2 separate regions of the Homo sapiens genome follow, and region 2 is linked to region 1. Evidence: fine-mapped expression QTL. A gene starts in region 1. The other region holds a variant in brackets. All regions are shown on one strand. Distances are from middle to middle.

Region 1 (9,400 bases):
CTAACCTGGTTTTGAGGAAGTGACTTTAAACAAAGACCTTAAGAGTAAGGAGGAATTAGTTCAGCAGAGGAGCTGGCTTCTTTGGAGATGGTTTGGGGAGTGATGTCAGAGACGTGTGCTTCTAGCACAACACGTGTACTGTGGCAGGTACAGAGAAGGCCCAGGAGAGGAAGAATGGTTCATAAGGGTTGGAGAAGTCATAAGGATCTAGGCACTGGGAAGCCATTGCAGGGTTTTAAATGTAGAACTGAACTTAATCTACTTGCTAATCCAACAAAAACTTATTATTTTCTGAGATGGGGTCCTGCTCTGTCACCCAGACTGGAGTGCAGTGGTGTGATTACATCTCACTGCAGCCTCCACCTCCTGGGCTCAAGCCATAATCTCACCTCAGCCTCCCAGGTAGCTAGGACAAATACATATACATATACATATACGTTTTTTTGAGACAGAGTCTCGCTCCATTGCCCAGGCTTGGAGTGTAGTGGCACGATCTCAGCTCACTGCAACCTCCGCCTCCCAGGTTCAAGCAATTCTCCTGCCTCAGCCTCCCAAGTAGCTGGGATTACAGGCACCCACCACCACGTCCAGCTAATTTTTTCTTTGTATCTTTAACAGAGACGGGGTTTCACCATGTTGGCCAGCCTGGGCTCGAGCTCCTGACCTCAGGTGATCCGCCTGCCTCAGCCTCCCAAAGTGTTGGGATTATAGGCGTGAACCACCATGCCTGGCATAAATATGTATTTAATGAGTGCCTACCACATGCCAGGCACGTACAAGACTAGGTCCATGCCCCTAGGATGCCCGTATTCTGGTGCAGGAGACATATTGGCAACAAATAAAATAAACCTTGCTCTAAAAGCGAAGAAGGAAATGCATATTCTCATCTCATCTAAAGTGAGTTTACTTAGGCTGAGATGTCAATAGGTAGGATATGACCTGTAGAAGTAGGAGGAGAGGTTCCAGTAGAGAAAGTGGGCAAGAACATGGTATATAATAGGTGATGTCCTGAGGCTGATGGCACTAGAGCATGGTGAAGGCAGCAGCCTATGAGGGAGAGGTATGCTCAAGCAGGGCGTAAAGGCCATGGAAAGTCACTGGAGAGTTTTAAGTAGGGAAATGACATGATCTGCCCTGATCCAATTCTGTTACATGGAAAATGAACTGGAGGAAGATCTGAGTGGAAACCAGGGAAAACTGAAGATACTGTTGTGGTAGCCCAGGCAAAAGATGGTGGTGGCTTGGAATAAGGTGGTAAAAGTGAAGATGGAGAATAGAAGACAGATTACAAAAACATTCTGCAAGTGGAAGTGACAAGACTTACTGAAAGACTGGGGAAGAGGAGTAGTAAAGGAGAAGAACAAAGATGATTCTCAGAGGTCTATCTTTGGTAACCCTGCGGATAGGAGCACCACTCAGTGAAACGGGAGGATAAGGTTTGCAATGATGAGAAAACCAAAACTTTCTTTTGGTTATGTTAGCTTTGGGTGCCTAAGAAATATCCAAATGGAGATAATTAAACAGGCATTTTTGACGCGTGATTCTGCAACATAGAGGAGAGGGCTGGACTAGAGATTTAAACTTTGGAGTTGCCAACTTTCAGGTGGTAATTAAAGCCATGGGGCTGGGTTACCTAAAGGGAAGCATGTAGAAGGCTCGGGATTCCTGTGAGAATTCCAACATATGTAGATATACATATATTTTGAGACGGAGTTTTGTTCTGTTGCCCATGCTGGAGTGCAGTGGCATGATCTCTGCTCACTGCACCTCTGCCTCCCTGGTTCAAGTGATTCTCCTGCCTCAGCCTCCCAAGTAGCTGGGATTACAGGCGTGTCGCCACGCCCGGCTAGTTTTTGTATTTTTAGTAGAGATGGGGTTTCACCATGCTGGCCAGGCTGGTTGTGAACTCCTGACCTCAAGTGATCTGCCCACCTCGACCTCCCAAAGTGCTGGGATTATAGGCATGAGCCACTGCGACCAGCCCCAGCATTTAGACATTAGATAGAGAGCAAAAGTTGCTAGCAAATGAGACTCAGAAGGAACAGCCGGAGAAATGGAGAAAATCCAAGAGTGAAATGTCAATAAAGCCAAGATGAAAGTTTGGAGGCAGGAGTAACTATGTTGAATATTGCAGAGACAGAGGAATATGAGAACAAAGTATCCATTGGATTTGGCAACATAGAAGTCACTGGTGACCTTGATAAGAGCAACTTCAATGGAGTGGGCAAAGTAGATGTGGTGGCACTTGATTACTAGAAGCTGCCTCAGGAGGACTGCTTGAGCTCAGGAGTTCCAGGTGGCAGTGAGCTATGATGGGGCCACTGCACTCCAACCTGGGCAACAGAGCAAGACCCTGTCTCCACAAAAAAAAAAAAAAAAATGGAGTGGGCAGAAGAGAAGCCAGATTGGTATAAAATGAAGAGTGAATGAAAGTTGAGAAAGCTGAGTTGGTACAGGTAGAAATCTATGAATGGAAATTTAAAAAATTGGCATGGTAATTGGAGAGGGATGTGAAGGATACCAGAACATAATTTGTATGCTGATGGGAACAGTTTCAGGGAGAGACAGGATTTGGTGACTGATTTTATTGGGAAATAGTGGACAGGAAGGAAGACAAGGATTACAGGCAGGACTGATGGTAGTGCCATTTATTAAGGTCAAGAATATAGAATCAGGGCAAACGTATTTGCCTACAAAGATCATGTTTCCACCACACTAGGTAGGCTTTCAGAGGAAGAACTGTAAAATTTGACTAAGCCTCTCCAGACGGTACCACTTTCTGATGTAATTAATCTCCTGATGAAGTTAAAACCTCCTAGAGTTGCAAGGCTATGCTAATCCAATCTAGCAGCCACACAAGCCAAGTGAATAAAAATGTACTTGTACTGGTGAAAGGGACATTACTCGTAAAAAAGGGCTCTAAATTCACAGCTGATGGAAGAGCAGTTATGTTTCTGTAATCAAAACACTGAAGACTTACAAACTGGTAACTTCCAGATAAACAGTGGAACCAGACATTTTTCCGAAGAAATTAATCAAATTCAATATTGTTTACACTCCCTAATGCTCATTAATGATGTAGCTTCATACACCCTTGTTACTTTTGATATTACAGTGAATTTCCACGGAAGTATTTTCAGAGATCTTAGCCCTCTGAAATAAGTATCAGTTCTTGCAACAACCCAGGAAAATTAACTTCTCCAGCTGGTTCAAAGGAGTGCCTGAGGAGAAAGGTAGAAACTAGAAGATGGAGTTTTGACTTAATAACTAATTTTGATGTTCATGATAGGCCTCTGGCAAACGTTTGAGGAAATGAATCTATAGAGAATGGACGGGCTTTAGGACTTCTACAAGACCTTCGATCTTTAGAAAGGGATGAAGGATGCAACCATCTACAAAAAGTTCTATTTGTATTATTCAGCAATATGTAAAGAGCTGGAATTTGGCATCGCCCTCTAGCCTGATGGCCGAGCTGCTGAAAGCTCCACAGGATTCATATCCCCAGAACAAACAACTCGATCACCTGATCCTGGCTCAGAAGCCCCAGGTCCCTTCCATCCCCAATCCTTTTGCGTGGCCCAGTTTTAAAAACCTGCGGAGAGAAGGACGGGATGCCAGGAAGCCTGTTGATTCAACGTGCCACCCGATTCACGGGTTCCGGGTGTCACTGGGCTGGGAAAAGCTTTCGGACTCTGAGCAACTACAGCGCTTTCCTCCCCCTTCCCCCCATAGAGCAGGGAAGGCCAGGCTCCCCCTTCTTCCCGCATACGGCTCCCCACTGCCTCTTCCCTTACGTGACCAGGCCCTAGGAGCCCGGTTCCCCACCTGACTCCTGCGAGAAACACGCTCTCCAGTCGGAACTTTACCTGTCTGAAGCCCGCCGCTCCTCCAGTGCGCTAAGCCCCCACCGAGGAAAATGGAGTCGTCGAACCGAGACTGGGAAAAGATAGTACGGACCCACCGCACGGCCCCTCCGCCGCCACCGCCGCCGCTGCTGCGTCAACGTGCTACGTCATTTCCGGCTCCCTGTCACCGGGAGTGGGCGGGCCATTTCTTGTTCTCTCTCCCGCTCTCGGAAGCTTTCGTCTCGTGGGTGCGAAAGGTAACCGAAGCGGCTCAGGAAGGCAGCTGTCACTGAGCCCCTGGAACAGAGCGAGAGTATCGTAAGTAACCAGGCTCAGCCGGTTTCTCAGGCCGCTCTAGTCAAATAAACCATAAAGATCAGACTCGGGCTTCTTCACTTCCTTCTCTCCGTGGTTTCGCCATTAGCTTCCGGTTCCGGGGAGGGGCCGAGTTTTCTTCGAAGATTTGGGGCTCCGCGATACAGTTAGGATGGCTGTAGTACCTCTGCTGTTGTTGGGGGGTTTGTGGAGCGCTGTGGGAGCGTCCAGCCTGGGTGTCGTTACTTGCGGCTCCGTGGTGAAGCTACTCAATACGCGCCACAACGTCCGACTGCACTCACACGACGTGCGCTATGGGTCAGGTAATGCTGGGGACCGGGCTCGGGTGGGCTAGGGAGGACTCGGAGGCTCTGGAGGGGCGGGGCCTATAGAATATCTGACAGTGTGGTCTGGGAAAGTTAGGGGTTCCCTGGGAAGGTTCCTCAGGTCTAGAGAGTCGGAGAACTGAATTGTTCTAAGGCATCTTAATCGCAACACCACCTAATATTTGGTGAGCTACAGGCCAGGCACGTTACCTATGTCCTTTTTCCGATTATTAACATTGTTGTAAGGTGGACAGTATTGTTATCCTCATTTCACAGATGAGGAAACAGACGCAGAGAAATTAAATCGTTTATTCAAAGCCTTGCAGTTAGCAAATGACAAAGTCGGGGTTCTATCCAAATCTATCCAGGTTCAAAGCCTGCTTTAGAGACAAGAAAATTACAGTAAGTGCTGTGTCTGAAATTTTAAAGTTACAGTAAGTACTGTCTGTGAAACTTTAAACTCCAAGAGCTCACTCGTTGACTACAACCCTTTGTCTTCCAGCTCTTCTGCATCTTACACTTGCTCCTCAGTTTCCATCTTTGGCCCCCTTCTACCCAAACCTTAACCTCCTTCTTGTAAGAAACTTGGAGCAGTGACAGGAATTGCAGAGAAAACTGCTTTTTTTTTTTTTTTTTTTTAGCGTTTGAAATTAAAATGTTTAGTAATAAATTATTTGTGGATTCATTCAGCATAGGTCTTAATGAGTTCCTACTACATGGCTAGAATTGTACTACATACAGGAGATTCGGTGGTGATAATCAGTCAAGAAAATTACAATATAATAAAAACAGACTAAAAAAAGAAAGTCTTATCTGCCTGAAAAAAAAAGATAAAGTTAAAAAAAAAGAATGAAGGTCAGCTAGTGAGATGTGAGAGGCATCTAAGATAGCTGGTAGATTTTTGTCTTGAATGACTGATGATGCTGTTTGCTGAGGGAGGAAAGAGTTCTGTCAGGTGGGCTAGTCTGGTTCATGATTCCCAAAACCCATCTGATCAGTCAGACTAGGCAAGGACATGAGTTATCATCACTGCGATGTCTTAATAATTCTAGCACCCATTCAGTGAACACCTACCATGTTGTCAGGCTTATTTTTTACTTTGTTTTGGTTTCCTACTTTGGATCTACTGAATTAGAGTGGAGGTGGACAGAGGCTTGGCAGTAGCAATCTGTAGGTTTAAAAAGCTCTTCAGGTGGTTCTGATGGACAGCCAGATTTGGGAACCAGGTTCAGTCCGGAGCTCAGAAAAGGGATCTGTGCTGAGCCTGAGATACAACATTAAATATAACATCTTGTACAGACTGTGGTTGAAGATGTCAGGGTTGTAGATGAAATTGCCCAGAATGAACTGTGATTCTCTATCTGGGATTAATTTGAATAACTGGAGAAACTTGTTAAAAATACAAATGCTTTTGTCCTGACCCTCAACAATTGTTTAAGAACTACAGGTAGCCCTCTCCGTCTCCCTCTCTTGTCTCTTCTCTCTTTCCACGGTCTCCCTCTGTTGCCGAGGCTGGACTGTACTGCCGTGATCTCGGCTCGCTGCAACCTCCCTGCCTGGGGCTCCCGTGATTCTCCTGCCACGGCCTGCCGAGTGCCTGGGATTGCAGGCACACGCCGCCATGCCTGACTGGTTTTCGTATTTTTGGTGGAGACGGGGTTTCGCCGTGTTGGCTGGGCTGGTCTCCAGCTCCTGACCTCGAGTGATCTGCCTGCCTCAGCCTCCCGAGGTGCTGGGATTGCAGATGGAGTCTTGCTCACTCAGTGCTCAGTGTTGCCCAGGCTGGAGTGCAGTGGTGTGATCTTGGCTCACTACAACTTCCACCTCCCAGCCGCCTGCCTTGGCCTCCCAAAGTGCTAAGAGTACAGCCTCTGCCCGGCCGCCACCCCGTCTAGGAAGTGAGGAGCGTCTCTGCCTGGCCGCCCATCGTCTGGGATGTGAGGAGCGCCTCTGCCTGGCCGCCCCGTCTGGGATATGAGGAGGGCCTCTGCCCGGCCGCCACCCCGTCTGGGAAGTGAGGAGCACCTCTGCCCGGCCATCACCCTGTCTGGGATGTGAGGAGCGTCTCTGCCTGGCCGCCCTGTCTAGGAAGTGAGGAGCGCCTCTGCCTGGCCGCCCCGTCTGGGAAGTGAGGAGCGCCTCTGCCCGGCCGCGCCATCTGGGATGTGAGGAGTGCCTTTGCCCGGCTGCCACCCCATCTGGGAAGTGGGCTGCCCATTATCTGGGAGGTGAGGAGCACCTCTGCCCGGCCACCCCATCTGGGAAGTGGGGAGCACCTGGCCGCCCTGTCTGGGATGTGAGGAGCGCCTCTGCCCGGCCGCCACCCCATCTGGGAAGTGGGGAGCGCCTCTGCCCGGCTGCCCCGTCTGGGAAGTGGGGAGCGCCTCTGCCCGGCCGCCCTGTCTGGGAAGTGGGGAGCGCCTCTGCCCGGCTGCCCCGTCTGGGAAGTGGGGAGCGCCTCTGCCCAGCCGCCCCGTCTGGGAAGTGGGGAGCGCCTCTGCCTGGCCGCCACCCCGTCTGGGATGTGAGGAGCGCCTCTGCCCGGCCGCCACCCTGTCTGGGAAGTGAGGAGCGCCTCTGCCCGGCCGCCCATTGTCTGGGATGTGAGGAGCGCCTCTGCCCGGCCGCCCTTCGTCTGGGAGTTGAGGAGCACCTCTGCCTGGCTGTCCCATCTAGGAAGTGAGGAGCGCCTCTGCACGGCCGCCCCGTCTGGGAGGGGAGGAGCGCCTCTGTCCGGCCTCCCATCGTCTGGGATGTGAGGAGCGCCTCTGCCCGGCCACCCAGTCTGTTAAGTGAGGAGCTCCTCTGCCCGGCCACCCTGTCTGGGAAGTGAGGAGTGCCTCTGCCCGGCCGCCCCGTCTGGGAAGTGAGGAGCGCCTCTGCCTGGCCGCTGTGCAGTCTTCCAAGTGTGAAGTGACAGCCTTTCTGCAGGTGTACCCAACAGCACCGAAGAGACAGCGACCATCGAGAATGGGCCATGATGACGATGGCGGTTTTGTCGAAAAGAAAAGGGGGAAATGTGGGGAAAAGAAAGAGAGATCAGATTGTTACTGTGTCTGTGTAGAAAGAAGTAGACATAGGAGACTCCATTTTGTTCTGTACTAAGAAAAATTCTTCAGCTTTGGGATGCTGTTAATCTATAACCTTACCCCCAACCCCGTGCTCTCTGAAACGTGTGCTGTGTCAACTCAGGGTTAAATGGATTAAGGGTGGTGCAAGATGTGCTTTGTTAAACAGATACTTGAAGGCAGCATGCTCGTTAAGAGTCATCACCACTCCCTAATCTCAAGTACCCAGGGACACAAACACTGCGGAAGGCCGCAGGGACCTCTGCCTAGGAAAACCAGAGACCTTTGTTCACATGTTTATCTGCTGACCTTCTCTCCACTATTATCCTGTGACCCTGCCACATCCCCCTCTCCGAGAAACACCCAAGAATGAACAATAAATACTAAAAAAAAAAAAAAAAACTACAGGTAGAAACAGATGAAGGCCAGGCATAGAACTTTGGATAATCCCAAGGTATAAGGATTTGGAGGAAGAAGTGAACGGTTGAATAGAAAGCAGAAAATGTAGGAGACAAAATGTAGACCATGGTTTAGTGAAGCGTGGCTGTGAGGACCCAGAGAGCTGTAAGGCAGTAACCAGAAGTAGGAAGGGAGACTTGGTTTGCCTTTTCTGAAAAAAGATATAATAAAGTCATGAAAGGAGCTGATAGTTGGCTACATTTACCCGTGTAACTGGCAGTGACACAATTACGACTCATTGCAGCCTTGACCTCCTGGGCTCAAGCAATCCTCACATCTCAGCGTCCTGAGTAGCTGGGACTACAAGTGCACCCCACCACACCTGATTAATTTTTTGCATCTTTTGTAGAGATGGAGTTTTGTCAGTTGCTTAGGCTTGGTCTTGAATTCCTGGGCTCAAGCGATCTGCCCACCTTGACCTCCCAAAGTGCTGGGATTGACGGTGAGCCACTGTGCCCAGCTTCTTTTTTTTCTTTTAAATATAAAAATTTTTTTTTAGGCTGGGTGTGGTGGCTCACATCTGTAATCCTAGCACTTTGGGAGGCTGAGGCAGTTGGATTGCTTGAGCCCAGGAATTCGAGAGTAGCCTGGGCAACATGGCAAAAACCCATCTCTACAAAAAATAGAAAAATTAGCCAGGTGTGGTGGCAGGCGCCTGAAATCCCAGCTACTTGGGAGGCTGAGGTAGGAGGATCACCCGAGCCTGGGAGGTCAAGGCTGTGGCGAGCTGTGATCGTGCCACTGCACTCCAGCCTGAGTGACAAGAGGGATCCTGTATCAAAAAAAAAAAATACATATATATATATGTACGTTTAGAGACTGCATTTTGCTATGTTGCTGAGGCTAGTCTCGAACTCCTGGACTCAAGGGATCCTCCCCTCACCTTCCCAAAGCGCTTGGATTACAGGCATGAGCCACTGTGCCAGACCTCCAAGGATACATTTTTTGTTTTGTTTTTGTTTTTGTTTTGAGACAGAGTCTTGCCCTGCCACCTAGGCTGGAGTGCGGTGGTGTGATCTCGGCTCACTGCAACCTCCGCCTCCCGGATGCAAGCAATTCTTCTGCCTCAGCCTCCCAAGTAGCTGGGATTACAGGCACATGCGACCACGCCCAGCTAATTTTTATATTTTTAGTAGAGACGGGGTTTCACCATATTGGCCAGGCTGGTCTCGAACTCATGACTTTGTGTTCTGCCTGCCTCAGCCTCCCAAAGTGCTGGGATTACAGGCGTGAGCCACCGTGCCTTGCTTAAATAATACGTTTATAATAATTGACCACTTATGGGAGTTGGGAGCTGTAATGGCTGCTTAAAGTTGGCAACATAGTCTCATTTTAATTGTGAAATACAAAAATTTTTATCATAATAGTTAATGAACATGAATAATAT
Region 2 (9,400 bases), 190 kb before region 1:
TCCCAAAGTGCTGAGATAACAGGCGTGAGTCACTGTACCTGGCCTGAACATTTTTTTTTGGAGACAGAGTCTCGCTCTGTCGCCCAGGCTGGAGTGCAGTGGCACGATCTTGGCTCTGCCTCCCGGGTTCAGGCCATTCTCCTGCCTCAGCCTCCCGAGTAGCTGAGACTGCAGGCGCCCACCACCATGCCCGGCTAATTTTTTGTATTTTTAGTAGAGACGGTGTTTTACTGTGTTAGCCTGGATGGTCTCGATCTCCTGACCTCGTGATCCACCCGCCTTGGCCTCCCAAAGTGCTAGGATTGCAGGCGTGAGCCACCGCGCCAGGCCACGTTGCTTTTTTTAATTAAAAAAAAATTTTTTTGAGCCACAGTCTCACTCTGTTGTCTGAGCTGGAGTGTAGTGGTTTAATTTTGGCGCACTGCAACCTCCACCTCCTGGGCTCAGGTGATTCCCCCATTTTAGCCTCCCAGGTAGCTGGGACTACAGATGTGCCTGACCACGCCCAGCTAATTTCTGTTTTTGGTTTTTTTTTTTTTTTTGAGATGGAGTCTTTCTCATTGCCCAGGCTGGAGTGCAGTGGTGCGATCTCAGCTCACTGCAACCTCCACCTCCCTGGTTCAAGTGATTCTCCTGGCTCAGCCTCCCGAGTAGCTGGGATTACAGGTGCCCGCCACCACACTGGCTAATTTTTGTATTTTTAGTAGAGACAGGGTTTCGCCATGTTGGCTAGGCTGGTCTCAAACTCCTGACCCGGTGATCTGCCCGCCTTGGCGTCCCAAAGTGCTGGGATTACAGGGATGAGTCACTGCACCTAGCCTAATTTCTGTATTTTTTATAGAGACAGGCTGTCACCATGTTGCCCAGGTTGGTCTTTTGTTTGTTTGTTTGTTCGTTTGAGACTCCCAGGCTGGAGTGCAATGGCATGATCTTGGCTCACTGCAACCTCTGCCTCCCGGGTTCAAGCTATTTTCCTGCCTCAGGCTCCCAAGTAGGTGGGGTTACAGTCTTCTGCCACCACGCCCGGCTAATTTTTTGTATTTTTAGTAGAGATGGGGTTTCACCATGTTGGCCAGGCTGGTCTCGAACTCCTGACCTCAGGTGATCCACCCACCTCGGCCTCCCAAAGTGCTGGGCTTACAGGTGTGAGCCACCATGCCTGGCTTGGCCCAGGCTGGTCTTGAACTCCTGGGCTCAAGTAAGCCATCTGCTTTGACCTCCCAAAGTGCTGAGATTACAGGTGTGAGTTACTGCCCCTAGCCTTGGAACATTTTTTTGTTTTGTTTTGTTTTGTTTTGAGATGGAGTCTCCCTCTGTCGCCCAGGCTGGAGTGCAGCGGTGCGATCTCAGCTCACTGCAACCTCCACCTCCTGGGTTCAAGCAATTCTTCTGCCTCAGCCTCCTGAGTAGGTGGGATTACAGGCGCACCCCACCAAGCCCGGCTAATTTTTGTAGTTTTAGTACAGACGGGGTTTCACCATATTGGCCAGGCTTGTCTCAAACTCCTAACCTTGTGATTTGCCCACCTTGGCCTCCCAAAGCGTTGGGATTACAGGTGTGAGCTGCCATGCCTGGCGGAACATTTTTTTACAATTTTTGATTTTTATAGAAAGAACCTGTTCAAAATTGGTCAGACACTGCACACGAGAAGTTTCTAGAACCACAATGATGAAAACAACAAAAACCGACAGACAGAAGAAAATAGGCAAACAGACAGAACCTACAAACAGAACAAACAGAACAAAAATACCCGAGACTAAACTGTTTCAAAATCAAGGTCCCAGTTGACCAAAGGATTCTAAAGAAACTCATGTGGCCGGCCGGGCGCGGTGGCTCAAGCCTCTAATCCCAGCACTTCGGGAGGCCGAGGTGGGCGGATCACAAGGTCAGGAGATCGAGACCATCCTGGCTAACACGGTGAAACTCTGTCTCTACTAAAAATACAAAAAAGCCGGGCGTGGTGTCAGGCACTTGTAGTCCCAGCTACTTGGGAGGCTGAGGCAGGAGAATGGCGTGAACCCAGGAAGCGGGGCTTGCAGTGAGCCGAGATCGCACCACTGCACTCCAGCCCGGGCGACAGAGCAAGACTCTGTCTTAAAAAGAAAAAAAAAAAGAAACTCATATGGCCAAGGGTGAGGAGACTCCAATGCCTGAGCAAGTACCCAGAGTGGAAGGAAAAACAGTTCAGAAATTCAAATCGCAATCCCTGCCCGCTGGCCCCTCATGCTATCAAGAGTGAGGCAAAGGGCTTCACAGCTTTATGGGGCAGAGAAGAGAGTGATGACAATAGGACAATAGCTTAAATAATGGGAGGAGGGGGAATTTTTTTTTGAGACAGAGTTTCACTCTTGTTGGCCAGGTTGGAGTGCAATGGCATGACCTCGGCTCACTGCAACCTCTGCCTCCTGGGTTCTAAGTGATTCTCCTGCCTTAGCCTCCTGAGTAGTTGGGATTACAGGCATGCGCCACCACGCCTGGCTAATTTTTTGTATTTTTAGTAGAGACGGGGTTTCTCCATGTTGGTCAGGCTGGTCTCGAACTCCCAATCTCAGGTGATCCGCCCTCCTCGGCCTCCCAAAGTGCTGGGATTACAGGCGTGAGCCACTGCGCCTGGTGAGGAGGGGAATTTTTACATTTCAACTTTTTGTTTTCTCTTCCCTTATAGGGAAAGAGGAGAGAGTGGTAGCTTGAAGTTAAGGAGAAAACAGTGATTTTTTTTCTTCTTCTTTAATGTAGAAAACATCTAGGAATGGCAGGCTGTAATGAAAAAAATGCCAAATTTGGCCACTTCCTAAAGAGGAGGTGGGCGCTTGTGTGGGTTGGTTATGAGAGTTACCAACCTTGGGTGTTGCAGCTTCTTGGAAGAAAACACTCCAGATACAAAGATTTGAGGGTGAGAGAGTAGAAGGGGGGCCAGAATGGGCAACCCTTAAGTGGTACCAAAATTAGCTGCGGCCTGCTCCCTGCTGGTGAGTTCCTGGAGTGTAGAGAATAGCAGGGAAGGAATTGGGGTAGAAGAGAAAATAAGTTGATATGCTGATTTAAAAAAAACAACTCTACTCAAGGCTCCATGGCCCCGGGTCCGAAGAGTAGAAAATCGCTAAGTGTCAATTACAGTGCTTTCTTGGGTCATCCCCCACTTTTTTTTTTTTTTTTTGAGACGGAGTCTCGCTGTCTCCCAGGCTGGAGTGCAGTGGCGCAATCTCGGCTCACTGCAAGCTCCGCTTCCCGGGTTCTCGCCATTCTCCTGCCTCAGCCTCCCCAGTAGCTGGGACTACAGGTGCCCGCCACCACGCCCGGCTAATTTTTTGTATTTTTAGTGGAGACGAGATTTCACCATGTTAGCCAGGATGGTCTCGATCTCCTAACCTCGTGATCCTCCCGCCTCGGCCTCCCAAAGTGCTGGGATTATAGGCGTAAGCCACCGCGCCCGGCCGGGTCATCCCCCACTTAACATGAGCTCAGTTCTGGTGGGGAATCAGTGCTGCCAGGACTAGGGGTATGGGCTGGTGGCCCAGTCTAGACTCTTGGCTCCCAGGGGAGAGGGGAAGGTGGCGCCCCCTGCTGGAGACTATATGACAACAACATATATTCCTATATTTGAACCACTGCGGGTCTTCTGAGCCATTTCCCTACTTGAATTTCTTTTTTTCTTTCTTTGAGACAGTCTTGCTCTGTCGCCCAGGCTAGAGTGCAGTGGCCCGATCTTGGCTCACTGCAACCTCCGCCTCCCTGGTTCAAGCGATTCTCCTGCCTCAGCCTCCCAAGTAGCTGGGATTACAGGTAGCCACCACCACACCGGCTAATTTTTTTATTTTTAGTAGAGACACACTTTCACCACCTTGGCCAGGCTGGTCTTGAATTCCTGACCTCGTGATCCACCTTCCTCAGCCTCCCAAAGTGCTGCGATTACAGGCGTGAGCCACCGTGCCCGGGCCCCTACTTGAATTTCTTACCAAGGGCAGAATAGTGGATTTTTCCCCTGCCAATCATTAATTCATTATATACAATATAGTTATCCATAGAAACACCCCTACTGCAAACTCAGACCATGTGGTTGGATGAGGCTCACCCCAGGCAAGGAGCACACAACTCGGAACCAACTCAATCAGCGTATAACATTCTCTAGCCCATGATGATTGTTTTAGAGATGGGCACATAACCCAGGGAGATAAAACGTACAAGGAGAATTTTGCTTCTTTCCCACTGGAGCTGGATGTAAGAAGACATAATATCTGGAGCTGCTGCAGTCATGTTGATACCAGAAGGGGAGAGCCAACCCAGAGAAAGATGTCATTTATTCGCTCCTGAACAAAAATCTATTGAGTACTTGCTATGTGCCAGACACCGCTCTAGGGTTCAAGTCACCCACCTCAGCCTTCCAAAGTGTTGGGATTTCAGATGTGAGCCAACATGCGCAGGCTCCATCTGCTTCTCTCTCCTTCATCTTCACTACACTATTTTGTTTTCTTTCTTTCTTTTCTTTTCTTTTTTTTTTTTTTGAGGCGGAGTCTCGCTCTTTCGCCCAGGCCGGAGTACAGTGGCGCTATCTCGGCTCACTGCAAGCTCCGCCTCCCGGGTTCACACCATTCTCCGGCCTCAGCCTCCGGAGTAGCTGGGACTATAGGCGCCCGCCATGGCGCCCGGCTCATTTTTTGTATTTTTAGTAGAGACGGGGTTTCACCATGTTAGCCAGAATGGTCTCGATCTCCTGACCTCGTGATCTGCCCACATCGGCCTCCCAAAGCGCTGGGATTACAGGAGTGAGCCACCGCGCCCGGCCTTGTTTTTCTTTATTTAATTAATTTATTTATTTATGTTTGAGATAGAGTCCTTCTCTGTCGCCCAGGCTGCAGTGCAGTGGCACGATCTCGGCTCACTGCAACCTCCACTTCCCAGATTCAAGCAATAGTCCTGCCTTAGCCTCCGGAGTAGGTGGGATTACAGGCTTCCGCCACAATGCCCGGCTAATTTTTTGTATTTTTAGTAGAGATGGGGTTTCTCCATGTTGGCCAAACTGGCCTCGAACTCCTGACCTCGTGATCCGCCTGCCTCAGCCTCCCAAAGTGCTGGGACTATAGGCATGAACCACCACGCA[C/T]GGCCCACTACACTATTTTAGTAAGGAAGATAAAGTTACACCTTGTAACTTGGGGTCACGGAAGTTTTAGATTTTTTCTTTTTCTTTTTTTTTTCTTTTGAGACGGAGTCTCTGTCGTTCAGGCTGGAGTGCAATGGCACTATCTCGGCTCACTGCAACCTGTGCCTCTGGGGTTCAAGCGATTTTCCTGCCTCAGCCTCCCGAGTAGCTGGGATCACAGGCATGTTCCACCATGCCCGGCTAATTTGGTATTTTTAGTAGAGATGGGGTTTCTCCATGTTGGTCAGGCTGGTCTCGAACTCCTGACCTTAGGTGATCTACCCACCTAGGCCTCCCAAAGTGCTGGGATTACAGGCGTCAGCCACCACGCCCAGCGCTAATTTTTAAATCTTTTGCAGAGACAGAGTCTCACTACGTTGCCCAGGCTGGTCACGAACTCCTGGCCTCAAATGGTCCTCTGCCTTGGCCTCCCCAAGTGCTGAGTTTACAGGCATGAGACACCACGTTTGGCCTTTCCCCAGATATTTTTGTTCTTCGGATGGTTGAATTCCTAGATGCTGAACCCTTGGATATTGAGGACCAATATTGAGCAGGAGAGGGCTGTGGGGTTAATAGAGGATTTTCTTTTCTTTTTTAAGAGGAAAATTTTATTCTTACTGAGATGGAGTCTGGCTCCCCTAGGCTGGAGTGCAATGGTTGAATCTCACTGCAACCTCCGCCTCCCAGACCCAAGCAATCCTCGCTCTTCAGCCTCCCAAGTAGCTGGGACTACAGATGCGGGCCACCACACCCGGCTAATTTTTTGGTAATTTTTTTGTACAGACGGGTTTTCACCATGTGGCCCAGCTTGGTCTCAAACTCCGCCTACTCCACCTCCCAAAGTGATGACATTACAGGCGTGAGTCACCGTACCTGGCCTGAACATTTTTTTTTTAATTAAAAAAATTTTTTTGAGACACAGTCTCACTCGGTTCCTTAGGCTGCGGTGTAGTGTAGTCTAGGCTCACTGCAACCTCTGCCTCCTGGGTTCAAGTGATTCTCCCACCTCAGCCTCCCAAGTAGGTGGGACCACAGGTGTGCACCACCACATCCAGCTAATTTTTTTTTTTTTTTTTGAGATGGAGTCTTGCTCTGTCGCCCAGGCTGGAGTGCAGTGGCATGGTCTCGGCTCACTGCAACCTCCACCTCCTGGGTTCACGCCGTTCTCCTGCCTCAGCCTCCTGTGTACCTGGGACTACAGGCGCCCGCCACCATGCCCAGCTAATTTTTTGTATTTTTAGTAGAGACGGGGTTTCACCGTGTTAGCCAGGATGGTCTCGATCTCCTGACCTCGTGATCCACCCGCCTTGGCCTCCCAAAGTGCTGAGATTACAGGCGTGAGCCACCAGGCCCAACCCTTATTTATTTATTTATTTTTCTTTTTGAGATGGAGCCTTGCTCTGTCACCCAGGCTGGATTGCAGTGGCGCAATCTTGGCTCACTACAACCTCCACCTCCCGGGTTCAATTGATTGTCCCACCTCAGCCCCCCAAGTAGCTGGGACTACAGGCACCCGCCACCATGCCCGGCTAATTTTTTGTATTTTTAGTAGAGATGGGGTTTCACCGTGTTAGCCAGAATGGTCTCGATCTCCTGACCTTATGATCTGCCCACCTCGGCTTCCCAAAGTGCTGGGATTACAGGTGTGACCCACTGTGCCTGGCCTATTTATTTATTTTTTCTTTTTTTCCTTTTTTTTTTGAGACAGAGTCTCGCTCTGTCGCCAAGGCTGGAGTGCAGTGGCGCGATCTCGGCTCACTGCAAGCTCCGCTTCCCAGTTCATGCCATTCTCCTGCCTCGGCCTCCCGTGTAGCTGGGACTACAGGCGCCCACCACCACGCCCAGCCAATTTTTTTGTATTTTTGTATTTTTTTTTTTTGAGATGGAGTCTCGCTCTGTCCCCAGGCTGGAGTGCAGTGGCACCGTCTTGGCTCACTGCAAGCTCTGCCTCCGGGCTTCACGCCATTCTCCCGCCTCAGCCTCCCAAGTAGCTGGGACTGCAGGGGCCCGCCACCATGCCCGGCTAATTTTTTATATTTTTAGTAGAGATGAGGTTTCACCGTGTTAGCCAGGATGGTCTCGATTTCCTGACCTCGTGATCCGCCCACCTCGACCTCCCAAAGTGCTGGGATTACAGGCCTGAGCCACCGCGCCCGGCCCTATTTATTTTTTTAATTGAGATGGAGTCTCACTCTGTTATCCAGGCTGGAGTGCAGTGGTGCGATCTCGGCTCATTGTAACCTCCGTTCCTGGGTTCAAGCGATTTTCCTGCCTCAGCCTCCTGAGTAGCTGGGACTACAGGTGCATGCCACCATGCCCAGATAATTTTTGTATTTTTTCAGTAGAGACAGGGTTTCACCGTGTTGGCCAGGCTGGTCTCGAATTCCTGGCTTCAAGTGATCCGCCCGCCTTAACCTCCCAAAGTGCTGGGTTTACAGGCATGAGCTATCTTGCCTGGCCACTATTTTTTAGATTTTTTGTAGAGATGAGTCTCCCTATGTTGCCCAGGCTGGTCTCTAACTCCTGGGCTCAAGCAATCCTCCCAACCTGGCCTCCCAAAATGTTGGGATTACAAGCATAAGTCACTATGCCCAGCTTTATTTTTAATTTTTTTTTCTTTTGAGACGGAGTCTCGCTCTGTCGCCCAGGCTGGAATGCAGTGGCTTGATCTCGGCTCACTGCAAGCTCCGCCTCCCGGGTTCACGCCATTCTCTTGCCTCAGCCTCCTGAGTAGCTGGGACTACAGGCGCCCGCCACCACGCCCGGCTAATTTTTTGTATTTTTAGTGAGACGGGGTTTCACCGTGTTAGCCAGGATGGTCTCGATCTCCTGACCTCATGATCCGCCCGCCTCGGCCTCCCAAAGTGCTGGGATTACAGGCGTGAGCCACTGCACCTGGCCTATTTAAATTTTTTTAACATTCCTCATTGAGCACTCAACTTGTCTTTTTTTCTTCTCTTTTTCCCCCTTACGTTGTATCTTGGGCCTTATGTGTCCAAACTCTGAAGAGAGGAGACCAGCGCTGGAGTTGAGAGAGAAAAAAGAGCCATGGTGATGAGGAGAGAGTTTAGTCCTGTACCTCCTCTTGCCTGCTGCTTTCAAGTCTGTTTTGTTGAATTCTCAGGACTCGATTGAGCTTAGTCTCTTGTCAGGCTATGCCAAAGCAGCACAGTAGTCTAGGGACTGACAGTTGGGCCTCACTGGACTTTAGTGGTTTTCTTTTACCAGTTTGAAAAAGGGCCAGGCTCACAGTGAGAGCTGGAAAGCAGGGGACTATTTGCCTGCGAATTCCTCAATAGCATACACGCGATGCCTAGAACATTTCTGTCCAATAAACAGCATGTGCTTGATAAACATACTGAACTTAGCGGTGTCCCCAGTGCATTCTAGGCGAGGTCACCTCCTTGACAAGGTCCCCAGGACTTCATTGCACCTCCTAGCTAGTAGCGTATTCTAGGATGGCAAAGCTGCCTTTACATAATTACCCCCGATACATTCTAGACACGATCATCTTGAAAGAGACCCAAATTTTACCAGGCATGGTGACTCAGGCCTGTAATCCCAGCACTTTGGGAGGCCGGGGCGGGCGAATCATCTGAGGTCAGGAGTTCGAGACCAGCCTGGCCAACATGGTGAAACCCCGTCTCTACTAAAAATACAAAAGTTAGCCAGGCGTGGTGGTGCAAGCCTGTAATCCCAGCTAGTCAGGAGGCTGAGGCAGGAGAATCGTTTGAACCCGGGAGGCGGAGGTTGCAGTGAGCTGAGATCGCGCCACTGCACTCCAGCCTGGGCAACAAGAGCAAAACTCCGTCTCAAAAAAAAAAAAAAAAAAAAAAGACCCAGGCTGGGCGCGGTGGCTCATGCTTGTAATCCCAGCGCTTTAGAAGGCTGAGGTGGGTGGATCACCTGAGGTCGGGAGTTCGAGACCAGCCTGACCAACATGATAAAACCCCGTCTCTACTAAAAATACAAAATTAGCTGGGCGTGGTGGTGCATGCCTGTAATCCCAGCTACTCGGGAGGCTGAGGCAGGAGAATCGCTTGAACCCGGGAGGCGGAGGTTGTTTGAGCCGAGATCACGCCATTGCACTCCAACCTGGACAACAAGAGCGAAACTTCGACTCAGAAAAAAAAAAAAAAAGACCCAAATTTATCATCAGTGGTCACCTCAGAGCACCTGAATTCAGGCCTTTAAGTGCAAGTAGGATGCAGAATTCTGGAAGAGCCAGTAAGTCTGTGGCTCCTTGGGGAAGCGCGATCCAAG

Which allele goes with the higher level. Positions count from the first base shown, and alleles are read on the strand shown. Sizes are in standard deviations (SD) of each study's normalised expression.
As copies of C replace T in region 2, the expression in unexposed skin of the gene that starts at base 4,303 in region 1 goes up (moderate effect, 0.62 SD a copy in GTEx).

Evidence for each region. PIP is the estimated chance that this variant, and not a neighbour inherited with it, causes the effect.
Region 2: its variant is fine-mapped to the expression of SDF2 in unexposed skin (GTEx, PIP 0.95).

The regions. Positions count from the first base shown.
Region 1 is chr17:28,656,809-28,666,208 of GRCh38, reverse strand. SDF2 (stromal cell derived factor 2) reads left to right here and starts at 4,303. Exons shown (of 3, transcript NM_006923.4): 1 at 4,303-4,483. The coding sequence starts at 4,333. SUPT6H (SPT6 homolog, histone chaperone and transcription elongation factor) reads right to left here and starts at 4,004. Exons shown (of 37, transcript NM_003170.5): 1 at 3,867-4,004. RefSeq lists enhancers at 3,214-3,888, 3,986-4,055, 3,417-4,616.
Region 2 is chr17:28,843,016-28,852,415 of GRCh38, reverse strand. It overlaps a transcript of FAM222B not described here. Among named protein-coding and RNA genes, the nearest start is that of FAM222B, 4.9 kb to the right of the region's middle. RefSeq lists a silencer at 3,556-3,605. The variant C/T (reference allele first, on the strand shown) is at 5,099.